Regions from separate parts of the Homo sapiens genome. Here region 2 is reported to be linked to region 1. The links are microRNA targets in miRTarBase. Many come from high-throughput screens and were not tested one by one. Region 1 holds a microRNA gene; the other region holds the end of a gene's coding sequence.

Region 1 (5,381 bases):
ATTTTGCTCACATGCTAAGGAGATGTGATTTTACAAAAGAGTTGAAGGCATTCAAGTGCTGTGTTTGGAAGGGGTGGGGGATGAGCTCATTGAGCTCATTGTTGAAATCTCATGCAGAGGCGTTCGGATGTCAGCCAGTAAAGCGTTTTAAGAAGTAAATTGATGAGGGTTTTGTCTCCAGAGAAACTGGATTGTAAACATATTTTAAGTTAAGGTATCTGGATTTGCTGAACCAGATAATGAATAAGCATCAGACCACTCGTGAGCAGAGGTATCCCCTGGGCACAAGGGCACCCAGGCTGGGCTCCATGCTGAGGAGACGGGTCATTTATAGACAAAGCATGTTTTTATAAAAAGAAGTTATATGATTAAATTTACATAGCATGCTAAGAAGTTTGGACACTATTTTGAGGGATGACAGAATTACATTTTTATGCCATGCTAAGGAATTTGGACTTCAGCCATTAAGAGTCTTGTTTTTTTTTTGAGAGGGAATCTCCCTCTGTTGCCCAAGCTGGAGTGCAGCGGCGCAATCTCGGCTCACTGCAACCTCCAAGGTTCAAGCGATTCTCCCGCCTCAGCCTAGGAGAAGTAGCTAGGATTACGGGCATGAGCCACTACTCCCGGCTAATTTTTGTATTTTTAGTAGAAACAGGATTTCACCATGTTGGCCAGGCTGACCTAGAACCCTTGACCTCAAGTGTTCCACCTGCCTTGGCCTCCCAAAGTGCTGGGATTACAGCTGTGAGTCACCGTGCCTGGCTCATTAAGAGATTTTTAAGGCAGTAACATGGCAGAAATTTTGTCTTGGGTAGAGTAGTCAGAGAAATTTTATAGTAAAATGTATTGTTCTATGCTAAAAATAATTAGACCTTATCTCATAGGTAATTAAGAGATAGAATAAAGCTTTAAGCAGAAGTTATAAGAGCAAATTCGTGTATCTTGCAAGGGAGAGTGACCTTTTTATTTTGAGGAATGACATGGTCAGAATTTTATATCATGCGAAGAGGTTTGGAATTAAGCCAATAAAGGGTTTTAGGAGTGACCTGATGAGATTTGGGGGTTCGTATTAATCAGTTGGCAAGTAAATTACACGGTGAAAATTTTCATTTTATGCTAAGTGGTTGAAACTTTACAGGCAATAAAAATGAATTTTTATATGTGTTAAATAGAGAAATTATGAGATGACCTTTATTCATCTTGCTAACAGTTTAAACTTTGATGTTAAGAAGTATTAAGATTTTTCTAACATGCCGAGGATATTAGATTTTGAGCTGAAGGCAGGAACATTGAAGGATTTAATCATTCACATGGTCGAATTTGTAAATATGTTAAGCAGTGTAGACTTTATATTAAGAGGGGGCATAATCTAGTTTTTAAATCGTCTTGCTAAGAAATTTAAATTTTCACCAATAAAGAGTTTTAAGTGAGAGACATGCTGAGATTTTTATTCCTGATAGATAAGTCTGCAGATGAATTACTTAGTTTTTGTATTTCAATTAGAATTATTTATTTGTATTTCAATTAGAATTTTATATTAGAGGTTTGGAATTTTACAGTAATAATGCATATCTCAGAGGACTTTTATGGAGAGGAAATGAGTTAATTTCTGCAATGTGCTATGTACATCATGATGATGATGATGATGATTCTTATAATTCCTATACCATGCTGATTTGTATACTGTGCTTTAAAAAAATGTGATCTCTACCTTGAGGAATGACAAAATAAGAATTTTATATTATATTAAGGCCCTTACATTTTAACCAGAGAATAGTTTTGGTGAGTTTACATGTCAGATATGTTTACGCTAGAAGGTTTGGATTTAATATTGCAGACAGTAAATAAACAGTGGAAGGCTTTAATCAGAGAGACTGCATGATCAAATTTAAGTGTCATGCTAACAAGGGTGTACTTAATTTTGAGAAACAGCAGATCTGAATTTTGTATCCTGTTGGAAAGCTTGGATTTTAGCCAATGAGTTTCACGTAAGGGGGAACGCAGTTTTTTTTTTTTTTTTTACGGATGGGTCCAGTGGCTTAGAAGAAAACTCAGAAGTAACAAAAGGTGTTAAATTTATAAAGAGCAGTAGCTTTACAGTTAATCTATCAGATAATCAAAGCTTAATTTGCTCTGCCCCAGCAGAGAAGAAATGTGCAAATAACCCCAACCAAGACATTCCCTTTCAATTCTGTCTCAGCCCACTAAAACCACCCAACACTAGATTTCCAAAAATCCACTCTGGGACCGTCAGATTCCAAAGATGTCACATGTTCCCCCCAACCCCCACACTCAATGTCCCAACTCTGCCAGATACATGTCTGTTGGGAGGGCTCAACCAGCAACAGAGAGAAAAAGATATTTGCTAGAAAGAGGAGACCAGACCCACTGGCGTTAAGAAGGGGACCTGGGAGGATAAGATTGGAGAGGCGTGCAGATATGCTTGCACTGGTGAAATTGAGGCCAGATGTGTGAAGTTCCAGAAGCCTCACAAAGAGGGCAGTCCTGGGAGAGTGGAGATTGTAGGAAGAGAAGGAGATTATTTGAAGATCTCCTCAACAGCTCAGAGGTCGGGAGAACATAGCATTGGAAGGAGACCAAATCGAGAAAGAGAAATTGGCCAAAAGTCTGAGTTAGAATCAAGTAACAAATATGCAGTTATCCAGCACATAGTAGGTATGTTATAAAATTTATGGAAAAAAAAAAAAAAAACCCAGACCTGTACACACCCCCTGAAATTTCTATTTTGAACATGGGGAAGGAAATAAGAACTATTTTGGGCTGCTGACCCAACTGACGGGACAGTGGCCAAGTGCCCATTTTCTCCTCTTCCACTGCACTGGTGAAACAGTAGGCATCTTTGCTAGAGATTCCCGCTCCACAACCAAGGTGGCTGGGCTTGCTCCAGAGCCCTGAGCCTGCCAGGGGTGGCTTTGGATGGTGCTGAGATGTGACCTCTGTGATTCTCAGGTGACCAAAGCAGGAAAAGAGGATTGACCAGGTGCATGTGCCAGGGGGGAATGGAGCAGCCTGTGCACCCTGCCAGGTACCCGCCTGCCACGGTGGCTGCTCCCAGCCACAGAATTTATGGGCTGTGAATTTCTCACATCTATGGAGGAAAAGGACAGGACAGGCAGACTGAATAAGCCTGGGAGGCAGGTCAGGGGTTGACAGATCTTCCCTCCCTGGGGGCACCCCAAGTGACCAGCCAAAGAGGCTGGCTCGATACAAGAAGGCTTTCCCCCATTTCTCTCTGCTCTGATTAGTTGGGCATCTGATTTGTCCTTGAGACCCTGATACTGCCACTTCACAAGATCCTAAACTACTGCCTTTACTCCCCACACTCCCCTTCCACCACCAGGTTCTGATCTCCACGGTCCCAGCTACTGACTGGACGCCATCACAACCTTACCAATCTTCAGAATACACTCCTTTCCATCCGACGAAATGATAGAACCCTCTGAAGACTCATTTGAGACGATGATGGAGCATAAGAATCCATCATCAAAACAAATGGAGTCCTCCGAGGGCTCATCCAACACCACCGAGGCGACGTCGGGCAGTGGAGTGCGGGGAGAGGCAGGGCCAGCCAGCGGCCCAGCCCAGGAAAAGAAGGAGCCCCCCAGTGGCCCACTCCAGGAAATGGAAGAGCTGCCCACTGATCTACTCCAAGACATGGAGGAGCCATCCAGTGGCCCACGTAAGGAAATAGAGGATCCACCCAATGACCTACTCCAAGACCTGGAGGAGTCATGCAACGGTTCACACCAGGCAAGGGGGGATCCACTCAGTGGAGCATCTGATAGGATGAAAGAAGCATCAGTCAACCCATCGGGAGCCCGAGAAGAACAAGAGGCTCACACTGACCTGAAGGAATCGGGAAGGGAGGAGACTCCTCAAGAGCAAAACCAGACCGAGCACTCAACCGCAGAACTTATGGCCATGGTGAGGTCCATCATCTCGCTGTACTTCCGAATGCAAGACCTCAAAGAGCAACAGAGAGTAGCAGAAGAGATCTTGATCAAAGGGATCAATGCAGGCCAACTGCCCGCCCCAAAGCACTTCTCTGGCGATCGCAGAGAATTCCACGAGTTCATCGTACTCTGCCAACTGACCTTACAGAGCTACCCAAGAATGTTCTATAACGACCGTCTGAGAGTTGGCTATGTCATCAATCACCTGTCCGGCTTGGCATTAGAATGGGCCAAAGCTCTACTGCAGGAAAACAGCCCCCTGATCGGAGACTTCCCAGCCTTCCTGGAGGCCATGTCCGAAGTGTTTGAGTACCGCCAGGCACTGCGTGTGGCAGAAGAGGCCATGTTCACCATCAGGCAGGGCGGCCGCTCTGCCACTGAGTACATCGATGAGTTCCAGAGCCTGGTACCCATCTTGGGCTGGCCAGATGAAGTCCTGCAGGCCCACTTGTGCCAGGGGCTCAACGAGGAGATCAGGCACTATCTATTCCGGGTCCCTCAGCCGGATTCCCTAGACAGTCTGATTGTGCTCATCCTGCAAATAGAAGAGAAGCTGGCAGAGAGAAGAGCTATGCTCAGGCTGCCCCCCGAGGCCCGCCCCCGGAACCTGACCTGGATCGACTCACCTGCTCCAGAGAGGTGGATGGTCAGCAGCTGGTTGCCCAGCGAAGTCCATCCGGACATCAATCGCGCCCACCTCTTCCTGCTGCTCATGGTGAGAGTGAACCCCTACCACAGCGTCGCGGTCCAGGCCCTGGTGGATTCGGGAGCTGACGGCAACTTCATGGATGAGAAGTTCGCCCAAGAGCACTACGTCGAGCTCTACGAGAAGCCGTACCCACAGCCGGTCCAATCCGTGGACGGCTCGCTGATTGGCAACGAGCCTGTCTGGCTCTACACGGAGCCCCTGGTGTGTATCCACCAGAACCACCAGGAGTCCATCGAATTTGACATCGTACCTTCACCGAACTTCTCTGTGGTCCTAGGCATCCGCTGGCTCCGAGTCCACGCCCCCGAAGTCGACTGGATCAAAGGCCGCTGCACCTTCCACTCTCCCTACTGCCTGAAGAACTGCTTCCGCCCGCCCCCGCCATGCATTGCCCTAGAGAGGCACGGCATGAGCCTGCTACCCGGACTGCCACACCCATACTCAGACCTGGCCGACGTGTTTAACCCGAAGGAAGCAGATGATGAGACTTCCGACCAGCCAAGCTCAGACGGATCCGATGATCTTTCTGAATCAGAGCCCTCTGAGCTTCAGCAGGCTGGAGACAGTGATCACAGCGAGACCTTTTACGAGTGTCCCTCCACCGCGCCTTGGGAACCTGTGGGTGCCAGGATGCAAGAAAGAGCCAGGCTACAGGAGGAATACTGGGACCTGCAGGACATGCTGACCAACAGACAGGA
Region 2 (5,381 bases), not on the chromosome of region 1:
GTTATGTAAGAAAAGCCCTTACCATAGATAGATATGCTCCCAAAGTTAATATTTAAATGAATTATCTTTTTAATGCAATGATTTTCCTTCCATGTTAAATTACTTCTATAATAATTCCACAAAGGATATGGTTATTGTTTTAAGGAGGTAGCCAGAGTGCAGCATGCTGTTTTCAACTTACCAAGTTAGGAACCTGTATTCAGGTTGGAACCACACATCCTCTTCCTTGAAGGATGGGACTTTATGTACCTGGGAAGTCGCTACTGCTTGTGGAAATTTAGGCCTTCTCTCTCTCTCTGTCTGGATGTGTCAAGGATCCCCATGACTGAGTTAAAACAACTAGAGGGTAGTGAGAAGGGTCGGAGAAGTAGCAGGAGTAACGGGAAGTAGAGGCAGCTTTAAGGTGACTGCCTTGCTACAGGGGAAGATGTTTCCAACCTCTGGAGGTAAAGGGGAGAGAGGGCTTAATCCTTATGAAGAAGTTCTGGCCCAAACCAGGTCCCAGCCTCCTGGCCCTCAGGCTGTGATTGGAACCACGATCCGGGGAGAGGGACCCTCATGGCCCAAGGAAAAGATACTGGTCCTCATTTAGCAGACGGCAGACTCTCTGCCCACAGAGTGTGTTTTTCCACACTGTGGTGTCTCCAGAGCCAAGGTGGTACCTTTCACCAATAGGTGCTCAATAAATTCTTGCTAAATTAATAACTGAAGAGTGGTTAAACTAGTAACAGTAACAACAGAAGGATTTTCAAACTGCCTGGGGCCCCTGCTGGTGAAAAAAAAAGGGTTTGGGCAAGAGTGACAACCATAATTCGACCAGTGGAGCCTCTAGCCATAGAAATGCTGTTTTCTTAGTGATTATGATAGTACTATAGCCTGAAGCTGCAGTTGCAGCTTCAGCAGTGCCTAGAGAATCACCTTTTACACAGCTCTTTTAATCTAACTTTGAAGGCTACATAATTAGTTGGTTAATAGATGCCACATTTCACAACACGTACATTGTAGTACCTGCTATAGTTAAATCATAGTATAATTCATAATTTTTACATTTATAAAATTGTAGCCAATGAATTAAAAATGTTGAAATCTTTTACACTATCATCTATGAAACTAGGAATATTTATTTAATTACATTGAAATCTTCAGAGAAATCAACTTCATAGCATTTTGTGGGGAAGCAATTTGTTCTACTCACAAGTAGGTATTAGGGTGTGTGTATGGGGGATATGTGTATGGGGGATAAGGCATGGAGATTTTTTAAAAGTTTTTATACTTTCCTGCTTCTTGGTAGAGATAGTGTCCTGACCTCCTTTTCCTGACAATGTTTGTATAAATAAAACCTTTCAGAGGGGGCCTCTTCAGGGTAGTCCTTGTTAAGACCTTGTCAAAGAAACAAAGTAGCTGTTTCTTTAAACTGCTGACACTACAACAATGCATATACAAAATCACTTTAATGGTTATTCATATAAGTAGATTTATATAGACAGAAAATAGCTCCATTTTTTTTTTTTTTTTTTTTTTTTTTTTTTTTGCCAAGCAAGCAAAACACAAGACCAATAGAATTAGTAGACAGAAGCCTTGGGGACAATGGCAGTGCCCTTTCTGAGTAAGACATGAATGCCATCTGGAGGATCCATTTGAAACTACAGTGCAGTAACCAAAGAACCTAATGTTTTCAAGCATAAAGGTACTTTTTGTGAACAGGTGGGCAACACAGGCAGGAATAACTACCTTCATTCTATGGACTTAAATTCCTATTTCTTTCTAGCTTCCAGTAGAAGACTCTTGAGAATATTGTTGTTGAGTGAAGTACTTTCCGCTGAAATGGGAAATGAACCCCTAGAGTCTTACAAGTATTATTAAGCATCAGTAAATACAGGTCAGGAAGAATTAGGCAAGAGAGAAGCAGGCAAATGTGTCCTGTTTGCTGTGTCCTGCCATCTCCTCTCCCTACACTGCATTTCATTCATGAGAGGATGTAAATGACTGATAGTTTAGTTTTTTCAAAGGTATTTACATTTTCATAGGTTGAAAGTCTAAATTAAGAGAGAGAGAGATAAAGTTAACCAGCAGAATTTCCAGTAGATATGTTGGAGGGGCTATGGTTGAATAAGCCATCTCCTTTATAAAATTGTTGATTATTCCTTTTAAACTAGGTCTGTTTCTTACTGATACACTAACTTTAACAAAAATGTTTTAAAAGGATTAATTCCTCAAAAGTCTGAGTAGTTAAAAACATCTGCATTTCCTAGTTTATTTCTAAGAAGATTCTGATATTCTGAGGGCATGTCATAGAGTCTCCTACCTCAATGCCTCTCAAATATCTCCTATTAAAAAACTGTTTCTAGGGCAGGCGTGATGGCTAATGTCTGTAATCCCAACACTTTGGGAGGCTGAGGTGGGCGGATCACTTGAGTTCAGGAGTTCAAGACCAGCCTAAGCAACGTGGCAAAACCCTGTCTCTACAAAAAATGCAAAAATTAGCCAGGTGTGGTGGCACGCGCCTGTAGTACCAGGTACTTAGGAGGCTGAGGTGGGAGGATTGCTTGAGCTGGGGAGGTCGAGGCTGCAGTGAGCCGTGATTGCATCACTGCACTCCAGCCTGGGCGACAGAGTAAGACCCTGTCTCAGAAAAAGAGATTAAAAAAAAAATTTCCAACCACTTGAGGGGCCAATACTTGTATAAATTAAAATTGTATGGCAATATCTTCATGCCTGTTCCTGTGCTCATCATGTCACAGGCCATTAACAATGTTCAGATTGGCACTGGTCTGTGCACCCATCTGATCATTGCTCTACCTCCGGTTCTCTCTTTTAAAAAATACGTGGATTTGAACTAAAGATCTCTGCCCACAATACCACCAGTTATATTCAAGAGCTTGACTTACACCTTCTTCCCTTCTGCTCTCTTCCCTCCCTTCTCCTTCCAACTTTCAAAATAAGTCTTTGAATCCGTAATAAAGAAAACTTCAAATAATTTCTAGTCCCTATTTTAAATTGACCTTCTACTAACAACGTATTTGCACAATTCCCCCATCCTCTTGTTCAGTTCAACCCAGTTCAGTTTTGCTAATTTTATTTGCCATAAATTTGTCCTAGACACCAGAAGCTTGTATAAGACACTTGGGTAACACAGAAGTTCAGATATTTGAGGATTAACAGGAGAAATCCATCTAAGAAAACAATGTAGCTGACAAGACGCATGCTTTCTTGATATAAAGATTATTGGAAAGCTTCAGTTGAATATGTTTGTTTGTGGCCAAAATAGATTGAGAAAGTCTTTTGATTGATAAGCAATTCTAGCTTTCTGAAGTTTCTTTCATTCACTAGTTGAAGAGCAATATATATTTTTTCTTATCCCAATAACCCAGAACAGAAAATTCTACATGAGCATATATTGTGTTCATACATTTCCATTTATAAGGCACAAAACCCACAAATCTCACAAAAAGGAAGAAAACAAAAGATTTGAAGACAATAAAGTAAACTCGGAGGAGGTTCATCAAACTGGAGTTAAATCATGTCCCTTTTTAGTAACTAAGGGACCTCATACTGACAGGAATCATTGCCTCTGAAAAGAGGGCTTCTGAGCCCTTCTTTTGACACAGCCTCCTTCACTGGATTAGTGCAGAAGTCAATCCTCAGGGAGGGCTGCATGGCCACAACACATCAATCCCAAGCACCACCTATCCCATAGAAGCTTCTGGGCAGCAATGCTCCAAACAAACCAGGGTGCCTGGTTCACATGTTCTCACCCAAAGGAGCCTTCAGGGACCAATCCACAGTAAACACACATGCTTGCCTATCCCAGTACTTGAGTATTTTATGGGTTCTGCTCTAAGCTGAAGCAGAACTGCCTGCCTGAGAACCCTGAACTAGGTTAGTTTTGTGGGTCCTTCGTGGGGCAGCATCTATGTAGGAGGCTGGACTTTGGGTTCCTCTTGAAATAATGAGGTCCCTAGAGGGATCCTTAGAACCAACTAATCCTACCAAGAGCTTTTAAAACATGCTGGTCAAATATGGCGATTCCCTGGTGCAACCCCCAGATCTCCTGGTCTGTTAGGCAGCCCTGATAACTCTCAAGTAATCCTGTAGTCCACTGGTAAAAAATAGATGGGTCCCATGATACCATATAGTATCTATGCTTATTGGCTGGGCCTCCTGGTGGCTCTTGGCACTGTAATTTCTAGTACTGTTTAGATTAGTATTATATGAGAATAAGCTTCCTGAATGTCCACATGAATCCAAGCATTTCCTGGAAGTATGACTGCTTCCTAGTCCTTTATATTACCATGCAAGGTAGGGATGTGAGTGAACAGCACGTCAGAGAAAACTGCCAGGTGTAGACAGTTATCCTGAGAAAAGGGTTAGTATTATAGTTGTCGAGAAAGGAGGGACCAGAAATCAGATGAACTGAGTAATTCATCATGTCATCTTGAAGGCTTTTCCACTCTGGACAATTTGAAATCCAAATGAAATTCGGTCCTTGGGTCAATTTATTCCATTACCAAAGAACAGCATAGTAGGATAGCCATTCCAACAGGGTGAGGACCAGCCACCTACTTACTTTCCAGTCCAATTTTATTATCCATTCAGCTTTTAGGAATTGCCCCTGGAGGCCATAGTCGGAATTTTGCTAAATTTTCAGGCATGAAGATGATTCTCCTTAATTCAATGTCTCATGAATCTTAGTCAAGATCCCTTCCCTTCCTGTGCCTTGTTAAGCTATGATCCAAAAGGAAAAGGAGTATTCCTTTTATTAACAACAACAAAACTCTTAAATCCTTTGGCTTTCAAACACTGCAGCTATAACATATCCTTGGATATATGTATTAATTTAAAAGCCAATGCCTTAAAAGTCAGCTTCTATTGTATCAAGTTTTCTCCAAATTATGAGGGGCTTCCTCCACACGTTGCCCCACTTGCCAGCCTCAGGAATCTTTCTTGGTCAGTCTGGCCTTGACTTTGTGCCTCAGAAGGGCTGCGGTGGCAGCACTGCAGGCAGCCAGGAAGAAGAAGGAGAGGCAGGCCATGTGGACAGATAGGGGTCCATGGCGCTGCAGGAAGATCTCCTGCCGCCCCTGGTAGTCCAGGAGGATGGCCTCCAGCTGGGAGAGCGTACAGATGGACAGAAATGCATGGAAGATCTGATGCCCATGGCCCACGATGTCACAGGAACCCGGGAAGTACTTCTCAGGCACGGGGCAGGAGAAGAAATAAGCGCTAACCAGGAAGAAGAGGATCTGGAGGGTGTGGTACCAGGCTGCTTGCTCCTGGCAGCCAGCCAGGTGACAGAGCGCCACACGGTGTGCCACAGGGCTGATGTCTAGGATAAAAGCCAGACCTGCTGGCACCACTTGACAGATCTTCCTCATGACTGG

Evidence for each region. The annotated mature microRNA hsa-miR-136-5p reads ACUCCAUUUGUUUUGAUGAUGGA and lies in region 1 at 3,498-3,520, opposite strand. An mRNA with a match to its seed (bases 2 to 7 or 8) in the 3' UTR can be bound and repressed. Matches are read on the target gene's strand: a 7mer-m8 pairs with bases 2 to 8, a 7mer-A1 pairs with bases 2 to 7 and ends in A, and an 8mer does both.
Region 2: the mRNA of PAQR8 is a reported target of hsa-miR-136-5p. Seed matches in the 3' UTR shown: 7mer-m8 at 1,495-1,501.

What each region holds. Positions count from the first base shown.
Region 1 is chr14:100,882,855-100,888,235 of GRCh38, reverse strand. MIR136 (microRNA 136) reads right to left here and starts at 3,534; the gene lies at 3,453-3,534. It overlaps RTL1 (retrotransposon Gag like 1), which reads left to right. Exons shown (of 4, transcript NM_001134888.3): 4 at 3,362-5,381. The coding sequence starts at 3,448. MIR127 (microRNA 127) reads right to left here and starts at 5,257; the gene lies at 5,161-5,257. It overlaps MIR432 (microRNA 432), which reads right to left and starts at 3,753; the gene lies at 3,660-3,753. RefSeq lists a silencer at 2,250-2,544.
Region 2 is chr6:52,403,829-52,409,209 of GRCh38, reverse strand. It overlaps PAQR8 (progestin and adipoQ receptor family member 8), which reads right to left. Exons shown (of 2, transcript NM_133367.5): 2 at 1,433-5,381. The coding sequence ends at 4,932. Among named protein-coding and RNA genes, the nearest start is that of EFHC1, 14 kb to the left of the region's middle.